Regions from separate parts of the Homo sapiens genome. Here region 1 is linked to region 2. A link means that fine-mapping ties the variant in region 2 to the plasma level of a protein whose gene starts in the linked region. Region 2 holds a variant in brackets. A gene starts in the other region. All regions are shown on one strand. Distances are between the middles of the regions.

Region 1 (5,379 bases), 28 Mb before region 2:
TTAGAAGGGTGTGCTGCAACTGGTACCTTAGCAAAACACAATAATAAATTAAGAGGATTCAAGAAGCCTTCACTGTAGACTCTAAGAAGATTTAAGATTTGTACCGAGAAACGGCTTCTAAATCTCTTCTACTGCATTAGTTTAGCATCTAAAGAACACCTGTCTAAAAATCAAAATATCTAAATCCTATCCTTTGAGTCAACTTGACTAACACTCAACTTGACTACCTAAAAGCTAGCTAATAATCGCAGCACCTCAGCAGAGCAGAGGTGGAGGGCATAGTTTTATGCACTGAGATCCTATAATAAAAGAAGCCCTATGTGTCAGAGTAATCCCATTTCTGATATCATATTATTTAATACTTAATTTTTCAAATCACTTTACAATTATATTTATTATTCCCTACAATTCTCTAAAGCAGGTTATTCCTTTAGTCCTGCTTCATAGGTGAGGAGACTACATATCATGAAGATTAAGTTATTTACCAAAACAAGTTAATGATAGACCAAGGATTATTACCCTCAGACTGTCTCATTGATCATACTCCTCTCTATCCTAAAGCTACACTTAAAGCTTTCACTCAAAGAAAAAGGAAAAGCAAAAACACCATCATATATGCTCTTTATTAAATGCTTCAGAAACAACGGCTCTGCTTCATCACTACAAAGCCTCCTGGTCCACTTCTGAAATTCTTAGTGACCTAGACGTGTACGAAATTTGAACTTTCCAAGAAGTATCTAGTTGGTGCTGAACAACCCAGTACTATTTTCGGGTGATAAATAACCTTGTTCTCTTTTTAAACATCTGCGATTGACATGTCGACTGACTGTTAACAATGAACAAAGACCATATTTTTCTGAAGCTCATCATCTTCCTAACCTTTTCTTTGAAAACAGATGTAGTTCATGTACTAGTTTTTTGGTGAAGGTAAAAATCTTTATTCAGATTAGGCTCAGAAAAAGAAGGGGCTGCTTTCCGTTCAACAAATATGCACAAGACAGCATCCCACTGGGAGCATCAATCTCAGAAGCAGTAAAACACAGCCTCGGCCCTGAAAGGACTTTCTGAACACCTTTGGAGTGTCATCCGTTTAATATACATTATTTTAATTAATCCTATTAGCTGGATAATTTCTTTCCCATTTTATTGGTGAGTTCATATAGCAGAGCTGGATTTGAATCCAGGATTACAGAGCAGGGCTCCAAAGCCCAAGTTATTTCCACTAAAGGGTCTGAAGAAATGTAGAATCTAAAAGTGTGGGTGGGATGGGGAAGATATGATTTGATTCCCTTTCCTTGGTCCAACCGTGTTAGAAACATCCAACCATAAAGAAGCTTTCTAAGGAAGCCCTTTGAATTAACGTATCCACTTTTTCTCACCCGCCCGTGCCCCACCCCCAGCCATGCCAAAGGAGCAGCAAATGCTGCTGCCAGGTTGGAGGAATTGGTGATCGTCACACCACATTCCTGGGTCTGGACACAGCCTGAAACAGCAGCAGAGCTCCGCGCCTCGGAAAGAATAACAGCAGTTGAGATTTTTAAATCATGTGCCTCAGCATGCAGCCACACCAGTTGCCCTACTTCTCCTGCCTCCACCTTTCAAAGACGCGAGCAGCACACACGGCTCCCCCGGACTTTCGGTGGGGTTGGAGTGTCAAAACTCAGGCGCGCCGCAAAACCCCGTCCCCATCCAAACCAAGCCCACACACCCGGCCCATGTGCCGCCCCCTGGCAAAGGCGAGGCTGGCTGCGACGGTGCAGGCCGTTTGGCTTGGCGGCCCTGCCCCCGCTCTCCACGCCAGAATCTGGCATTCCTTCGCTCAGCCCCTCCGAGGCCCGCCGTCGGCTCTCGCTCGACCCCAAGAAACGCGGAACCTGAAGGGCAAAACTGCCCACCTCCCTGCACCCTGGCACTACGAAAAAGGAGTTTCTGAGACTTGCTGCCGGCCTCCCTCCTGCCGAGGAGGCGTGTAAGGGGTCCCGGGCCGCGGGGAGCAGAGGCGGCGGGGAACCCCGGCGGTTGGCGGGGCACCACGGGAGGGGCCCCCGGCGATGTCCAAACTCTTGGGAACCCAGCGAGTGGCCTCGCTCCGCGCCGGCGGCCGAGCCTGGCCTTCCCACACAGAGAAGGACCGAGGGGGAGAAGGGTCGCCCCAGGTGGCAGCCCCGGGCGCCGCGGACAGCGCCCCTCAGCCCGATACTCACCATGCGCGGGGGCCGCGCAGCACAGCCAGAGCGCCAGCAGCGCCCACAGCAGAGCGGGGCGCAGGGCGGGCATCTTCTCGGTCGCCTCCTCCTCCGCCGCCGCCGCCGCCGCCTGGGCAGATCCACATGGGGAGGGGGTCCCGATAGAGGAGCCCCACTCTCTCCTCCCCTCCTCCTGCTTCAAAGGCTCAGGCCCTGGCGCTACGCTCCGAAGCCCAGGCGCAAATGCCTCGACTCCCCGCGCCCCGAGTCCGCCGCTCCTCGGCCGCCGCCTCAGCCGCCGCCCGAAGTTTGGCTGAAACTTTCTCGGGTGTGCAACGAAGCAGCCTCGTGTGTCCTTCCGCCTCAGCCGCCTCCTCCCACCGCAAGCCCCGCCCCACTGTCGCCGCGGCCTCGGCCCCGCCGCCTTGGGCACCCAGGGGTTTCCCGCAGGAAGAAGCGCCGGCCCGAGCTCCGCGCGGAGGGATCTACTACGAGTCACTGGCCCCGTCCGCATCCTTCTCCAGCGGCCCCGGGGGCCGCCGCGCCTTAACTCGATCAGGGCTGCAGCGGCTCGCTGGCTTGACCAGTGCAGAAGGGGCGTGGGGGTGAGGGGGGTGGGGTAGGACTCTGAACTTCAAGCACTGGAGTTTGCCGGGATCGTGAACTTGCAGGGAGAGGCGGTCCTCATCCAGTGAGGTCTGTATCGCCACCTACACCCACACATCCACACACTGCTTTGCTAGCTAGAGGAATGCTCTGGAGTAGGACCAGTGCTGTCAAAGAAGGAAAGTGGGCCAAGGCGCCAAAGTCCATTAAAAAGGAATAGAGCCATCACGGAGTGGTGCTGCCCCATTCATTCATTCATTTGTTCATCCGTGTAGCGAATATTTCTTAAGTGCCTTACTTTGCGTAGCTGTGTGCTTGGCAGTGGGATGATACCAAAGATGCACAAGCAACTTTGAGTACCAAGACTTTGCCGCTGTGGGCTGGGGGATTCAGGGAAGGCTTTCCCAGAGGAGCTGGGATGAAAGCAGGATCTTGAAAGGTCAGTAAAATTTGTATAAGACAAGGAGACCAGCTAAGCTAAGGATATTCGTTGTAACACTGTAATAGCAAAACCTTGAAAACAACATAAATGCCCACCCTTAGAGGAATGGATGAATAATGTATGGTATATTTATAAAATGAAATGCAACACAGTAATTGAAAAGACTATAGCTATTTATGTCAATAGGGATAAATCTTAAAAACTAAATGATAGTGAAAAAACTAATCACAGAGGGAGACAAAGTATACCATTTATGTATATTTTTTTCAAGACAATACTACACATTATCTGTGGATGCATATATATAGATATAGATATTAAGAGACTATAACCAGAATAGTAGTTACTTCCAGGGCAGGAGAGTAGGGGGTGTGATCAAACCTGGGTACAAGTGGGCTTCTAAGAAAAGAGCTAAAAGTAAGAACAGCAACAATAGTTGTATGGACATATCATTCCAGGAAAGAGCCCTCGTGAAAGCAAAGGTACAGTCAAAAGAGTAAGTAAATGAGTTCTGTCTCTGTTAGCAGTGAGAGGAGTCAAGGACGGAAAGGGGGTTGGGACCAAATTATGCAGCCTTGAATGGCAAGCTGAAAGGGTGGGGAGGCAGCTACCTCTTAGGTCACATAAAACTATTGAAAGTTTTTGAACAGAGTTGAGATTGATGGAAAGGAAGATTGCTCTGATAATTCTGTAGAAAATTGATTGTTGGGGGAGCAAGAGGTGAACTGGAGCCCCAGGACCAGTCAAGAGTTGGTGAACAGTCCAGGCACAAATTTAAGAAGACCTGAACTAATAAGGTAGATTTCAGAAGGAATGAATCCGAGACAATGTTAAAGAAACAGAAAAAAAAAATGGAGGTGTGACTAATTGGATGTGGGAGTTTACAATCCTGTTGGGATGGGAAATCCTACCCATAGAACCTCTCCCTGACTCCTATAGGATAAAATTCAAACTTCTAAACATGGTACATACAAGGCCTTTTCGTCATTGGGCCCCATCTCCTGTCCTCCCTGCCCCTGTTGTGAACTTCACACAATAACAGTATTGACTAACTTGAGATTCCCCCAAACATATCTTGCTGTTTCTGTCCCTGTATCTTTTGTTCCTTTGGCTTGGAATGACTCCTGTAGTCCCCTTCCCTCCTCCTCTTAATGAACTTCTAATCATAATTCATCCTTCAGTCCAAAGAAGGCTTTGCCGACACCGCAATAAATTCCTCCCCCTAACAGACAGTCCCTCCACTGTCTTCCACTGCCGCTTCTTTATCTTAACACCGATACTTATTTTTCACACAGGACTCTTTGTATTTCTGTGTTCTCAACTAAGTTTTGAGGTCCTCATGGGCAAAGACCACAGCCTATTAATCCCCAGTGTCTATCACATAATAGATGTTGAACTAGAATGTGAAACAACACTAAGCAAGTACAAGTCAGTATGGGCATAGACCTATGAAGTTCCAAAACTGCATGTTAACAAGCACTTTAGGTAAGCAAGTACCATTAGTGAAAGTAGTCACATTGAAATACTGGAAACCCTTTTCAAAAATAATGTAGTCAAAATATTTTTGGAATTTGTCTTGTGCAAGTATGTTCAGAGAAAGATAACATTATTTTTCAGTTGTTTACCCACAGTGTTACCAGTTCGATCTTCCTCTTTACTCACTAAAGATAATTCATAGTGACTTGGCTGCATACAAATTTTAAAAATCACCTGCAAAGATAAGTTTTGTCACTATTAAAATATATTCAGAAGAATATAAGATAGTTATCCCCAAAGAGCAACTCTAGAAGCGACTGTAGCTATGACAACATTATTAAAATAAATGTGCAGGCCAGGCGTGGCGGCTTATGTCATAATCCCAGCACTTTGGGAAGCTGAGGTGGGCAGATCACCTGAGGTCAGGAGTTTGAGACCAGCCTGGCCAACATGTTGAAAACCCGTCTCTACTAAAAATACCAAAAATTAGCCGGGCATGGTGGCGAGCACCTGTAATCCCAGCTACTCAGGAGACTGAGGCAGTAGAATCACTTGAACCCAGGAGGCAGAGATTGCAGTGAGCCAAGATCGTGCCACTGTACTCCAGCCTGGACAACAAGAGTGAAACTCCGTCTCAAAAAAAAAAAAAAAAAAAAAATAGGTATGCAG
Region 2 (5,324 bases):
AGCTTAAAATATTGCTGGACAGTAAAACCTACCCATCAGGGCCAATCCAGTCATATCTGCTCAGTCGTGCAGCACAGTAGGGGCGGGGTAGAGAAGTGGGAGGTGGGCTTTTAGGCAGCAAAGGAAAGAGACGAAAGTTGCCATTTTGCTGCTGAGCGCCAAGAGAGAAAGAGCACATATTTCTCCGTGGGACACTCCTTGTATTGGCAAGTTTTCCTTGGGTGATATTAGTTTGTAACCTTCCCCCCAATTGTTCTTTCTCAGCCTAATCTAAGGGCCATATATAGGCTTCTCCAAAAGGAAAAAGGTTGCCAATAAGATTCAGTCTTGGGCTGGGATGGCTAGACTTACACTCCAACTCTGAAAACCCTCTTCAAGTTGACCTAAGAACTGGCAGAGGTTTGGAAGGGAGAGGAATGCTGGAATAATCAGCAGGATGGGGAAACAGAGATGTCCAAACTCAAACTACAATTTGACTTCTTAAGCTCTTTTCATGTCTACAGGAATCCACAGGGACCTAAACCAAGTATTTGATATTTATGAAAAAGTTTTGTGCCCTTTTCACTCAAATTCTACAATAGAAATAATAGTCATAATTACTGAATGCTGTGGGGGTAGCGGAGGCTTCGTGCTCAGCATTTTCCATGTTGGAGCATTTAATGGAGCACAGGAAGGGATCTGGCTAAGGACCATAAAATTCCTCCTAGGAGCAGGTTCTGTTGTCTATCTATGAGAACTGCTGGCTAGTGGCTGTTCTAGAAACTAGAAAAGAGGCACTTTCCACCTGGTTACCAACCAGAGTGGTAAGTGGCCATTGAACGCTTTGGATAACTTATTAATGGATGTATATGTGTTATTCTGCCTCTTCAAAACCAGAGGAGGGCTATGCTGTAATGGGCTTAGATCTAGAAGACCAGGGCTCACAGCCTAGCTCTGCCCTCACTAGCTAAGCCCCCATCTTGGAGACTCATTTCACCTCCCAGCCTGTCTTTTTGTCTGGTAATGGGGATTGATAATGCCAAGTTCACTGGTTCTCAGACATCCATCTGGGGATCTGTCAGTTCTAGCTCAAGATGAAGGTTTCCACAACCTGTGACCAAAATGTGACAATGATAAAGTTAACAATGTAGTAAATGTTTCACCAAGTTAAGTGTGTTCAATTTAAAGGCTTGTCTTTTATTCTGAAGTTATGTCCTCTCCAGTTTTGTGGTGTTAAAATCCCCTTTTATGAAATGATGATGAAAATAGACTGTAGTTGTAGTTAGTAATTTAATAACTCTTTTTTTTTTTTTTTGAGACAGAGTCTCGCTGTGTTGCCCAGGCTGGAGTGCAGTGGTGTGATCTCAGCTCACTGCAGCCTCCACCTCCTGGGCTCAAGCAATTCTCCTGCCCCAGCCTCCCAAGTAGCTGGGATTACAGGTGCCCCACCACCGTGCCCAGCTAATTTTTGTATTTTTAGTAGAGATAGGGTTTCACCCTGTTGGCCAGGCTGATCTTGAACTCCTGACCTCAAGTGATCCTCCCACCTCGGCCTCCCATAGTGCTGGGATTACAGGCATGAGTCACCACGCCCAGCCAATAACTCTTATTTTTATGTCCTTGTTTGGCAAAATAAGGAGTTGGTATCCTTATGTTGGTCACACTAGTTTGTTATTATTATACTAGTCTGTGAAATCTAAGTCTGAGAACCACTGGCCTAGTTCACAGCTTGTTATGAGGACTGAAATAAGATACGTGAAAATGTATCACTTAGATCAAGGATACCCAAACATAAGGTGTTATTTTAATCATTACCTCTAGCCATCATTTTCTGGTGGGATGTTCCTGGCCATATATGGACACCCTGGGGTTGGAGGCTTGAACTCTATCCATTTATTTTCCATCTGTAATAGGTCTGTTCACTAAATTTTCACAAGCAAAATAAAACAGAGAATTATCTCTGAGAAAGAGAAGAGAAATAGTCTTCCTTTGGTTCAGATTTCTCCCTGCTCCCACAGAACGCTTTGCTTCTCTGATCTGACTTCCTTTAAATTTTCACTGTTAGAAGTCAGGAAACCAATACATTTCCCTTCGCAGCTCTAAAGTGTCTCTCCTTAACAGCACAGTAGGCCTGTTTCAACATCATGGGGTTGGAAAGATTGTGTCCTAAATTACAGTTTCTCTCCTTCAGTTATCACAAGAAACTGTAACTAGACATTTAAAAAAAAATACAATCTTAGCATGGCGGCTTAGAGTATAGAAAGACATGGGCTTGTTTGGCTTTGGTTTCAAAATTACTAATGAGTGGTCAGGAACGACTTCTTGTGTCATGAACATGTATCATGACACTCTTGTCAAGAATTGTTGGCCTTCCAGTTTATATATTTGATCTCATACAAAATAAGCAGTTTTGTGTCTCAGAGCAGCTGGTTGGGGATCAATTTACTATCCTTTTTGTTATTTACCATTTTTTACAAGTTCTTAATTTTTCTGCTGTTAGCTGTAGCAAGAGGACTGAAGTTCCTTGGTCTCTAGTATTCATATTACAGGAATTTGGGGATTGAGAATTTCAGATTTCACAAGGATTACTATTAGAACCATGCACTGCTGTCTATGGAGCTCCCACTCTGTGAAGGGCTTTGTTCTGTGTTGTGATGGTTCACAAAAGATGAGGCCAAAATGGTTCCTGCCCTCCAAAACCTTTTGATACTAAA[G/A]GGGGGAAAACAAGATTGGTTAACATACAGGACTGAGAGCATGTGCTCATCACACACATTCATGTGGGTATGTGAGTGAAATACACTGTCAAAAATGAACTGATATATCAATGAGGGTAAGTATTAGCAAGATAGTTAAGATTCAGTAAGATATTAGTAAGATAGTAAGATATTAGCTAAATCTTATAGAAGTACAGTTATTCAAATTGCTGTTTTAACATAAATTTTAGAATGAACTATTTGATAAGAAATGAACTTTTTCCTGGCTCTGCCACCAGTGAGCTTTATGCTTGGGCTGCTTACCTGATTGTGATGTTTCCCACCTATTTTCCAAAAGGCAATGGGAATGGCTACCACTCTTACCAGGGCAATTACTAGACTTAACTATAGTCTGAAGAGTTAAAAATAGATACATGTGGCTGGGATTGAGTTGCTGGTTCCGATTCCGAGCTGCTGGGTCCTTCCCCCTCTCCATTACCCATTTCTCCAAGGAACTCTTCCCAATGCCAGACCCATGACTGGGGATGCCACAGCTGCTGTCACTTTTTCAGGAGAAGAGAAGCTGCTGCAGGATGCCCTGCCTGATTGGGAGCTTATGAGGCCTCAAGAGGAGGAGCACTCTCTGCTCTCCCACAAGAAGCGAACAGCTATTGTGCCTGCCCTGACAGCACAGGCTGGACATTGCAGATGCCTGCAATTAGTATCCTGCCACCAGGTTCTGTCTGGCCAGACTCCAAATCACAGGTTGGAAATAGGCTTTTGTGTTTAACAAATATCACTGTGATTAAAAAACAATAGGCATATCCCTTTAGCCCCATAGGTTCCTAGGCCTATAGCATGGGGCATGGCTAGAAGAAGCCCAGAGCAAGATCCTCTAACATGGGCTCTTGCCCTGGTCTGAGGGCAGTGATGAGTAAACTTATAACTCTAGAGATGTTCAAGCTGCAGGAACAACTGTTCTCCATTGAGGTGGAAGTTTTGCTCATCATTCTTTATAGGTTACAGGTTTGCACTGGATGAATGACCCAGTTGCAGCCAGCCCCTTGTCAGCTCAATGCCATTTCCATTAGCCATTGCTGTGCTACAGGCATTATATACTATCATGTTTAACGATATTTTTTCTATAGACCAAATTTTTGACTCTATTAAAACAGCCATATGTTACAGACCCTGAAACATTTTCATTCCATAGGACACTAAAAGTGTCCTAGAAGACCTTCCTCATCCTGTGACATGATTCCTTCCCAAAGCATTCTCTCTGTTCTTTGGATTTAAAAGAGTAATAATAAAAATATACGGCCCTCAATGTGTAAAGCTATTAATAAGGGTTTCCAGATTTCAACCTAGAGAAGAGGAAACATAAATTAAGAGCACAGAAGTCAAAGAATTGTGTAGCTTTGATTGCAGGCAGTTTATCTCAATGGTGTAGTGGGAAGAACCCAGCCTTTGTGATCAAGCAAACAGAACTGCTGCTATTTAGCTGTCTAATCTTGGACAATATATTTAGCCTCTCTGAGCCTCAGATTTCTTTTTTCTTTTTTTTCTTTTTCCTTTGAGACAGGGTCTTTCTCTGTTGCCCAGGATGGAGTATAGTGGCACATATCAGGGTTCACTGCAACCTCGACCTCCCAGGCTCAAGCAATCTTCCTGGCTCAGCCTCCCAAGTAGCTGGGAACACAGGCATGCACCACCGAGCCCAGCTAGTTTTTAAAGTTTTTTGTAGAGATGGGGTCTCACTGTGTTGCCCAGGCTAGTCTCTATCTCCTGGGCTCAAGTGATTCTCTTGCCCTGGCCTCCCAAAGTTCTAGGATTACAGGCATGAGCCACTGTGCCTGGCCTTCAGTTTTCTTATTTGTTGGAATCAACTTAGTTAACAAATACTTATCAAGTTCTCACTGTGTGCTGGGCTGTATGTCAGGCATTGAGTATATAGCTGTAAATAAGACAGGCATGGCTCCTACCGTCATGGAAATTACAGTCTAGCAGGATCAAGTTAAATGAAATAATATAATGTCAAAGTTCTTTCACAAAGTTGGTATTCAATAAATGCTAATCCCCTTCCACTTCCCTTCAAATATACGATCATTATATATTCTGACACTCAAACATAAGATGGCCACAGACAATTTCATACATACAAGAATTGTGTTGGGAGCCCAGACACCCATAGTATAAGGGAACTCTTCAGCATTATGTCTCACGAAACTTAGATCAGTGTGTGGTCTTGATTTAAATCCATGTAACCAAGGGTTTCTATTTATGGTCAACAATGAATCCTTATTTTTGGTGGACTTTAAGGAATTATACAAATATTGCCTCATTGATGCTTTCAGACCATTTGTGAAGTGAATGAGAATAGGTATTATTATTATTAAACCCATTTTACAGATGAGGAAGCGGATGGAAGCACATTCTTCGGGGCCTTCTTTGTTCTCTAGTCCTAGTCTGCACAAAGGAAGCACTGGATAGACGCTGTGTGCACATTGACCGTTCTGGCAACTTGGAAAGGAGAGGTACCCCGCGTTAGCAAAAACAGATATTGACTCAGGGTTGCATTGCGGCCGCTCAGCTCTTGCCTTCTCCCTCATTTCTTCAGGTGGGTGAGAAATGGGCGACTGGAGTTTCCTGGGG

Direction of the effects. Alleles are on the strand shown, and positions count from the first base shown. The strength of an association depends on the size of the effect and on how common the allele is.
For the plasma level of the protein whose gene starts at base 2,533 in region 1, A is the high allele of the variant in region 2 and G is the other (moderate association).

The links. PIP is the chance, under the fine-mapping model, that this variant and not a neighbour inherited with it causes the effect. Protein levels are from antibody-based Olink assays in UK Biobank. Linkage for the fine-mapping came from a reference panel and not from the study's own genotypes, which makes the PIPs less certain.
Region 1: it holds the start of NOTCH2, and the variant in region 2 is fine-mapped to the plasma level of the NOTCH2 protein (UK Biobank, PIP above 0.99).

What each region holds. Positions count from the first base shown.
Region 1 is chr1:120,067,130-120,072,508 of GRCh38, forward strand. It overlaps NOTCH2 (notch receptor 2), which reads right to left and starts at 2,533. Exons shown (of 34, transcript NM_024408.4): 1 at 2,205-2,533. The coding sequence starts at 2,277. It overlaps LOC101929178 (a long non-coding RNA gene), which reads left to right and starts at 2,699. Exons shown (of 2, transcript XR_254374.4): 1 at 2,699-2,882.
Region 2 is chr1:147,902,656-147,907,979 of GRCh38, forward strand. It overlaps GJA8 (gap junction protein alpha 8), which reads left to right and starts at 140. Exons shown (of 2, transcript NM_005267.5): 1 at 140-206; 2 at 5,290-5,324. The coding sequence starts at 5,301. The variant G/A (reference allele first, on the strand shown) is at 2,694.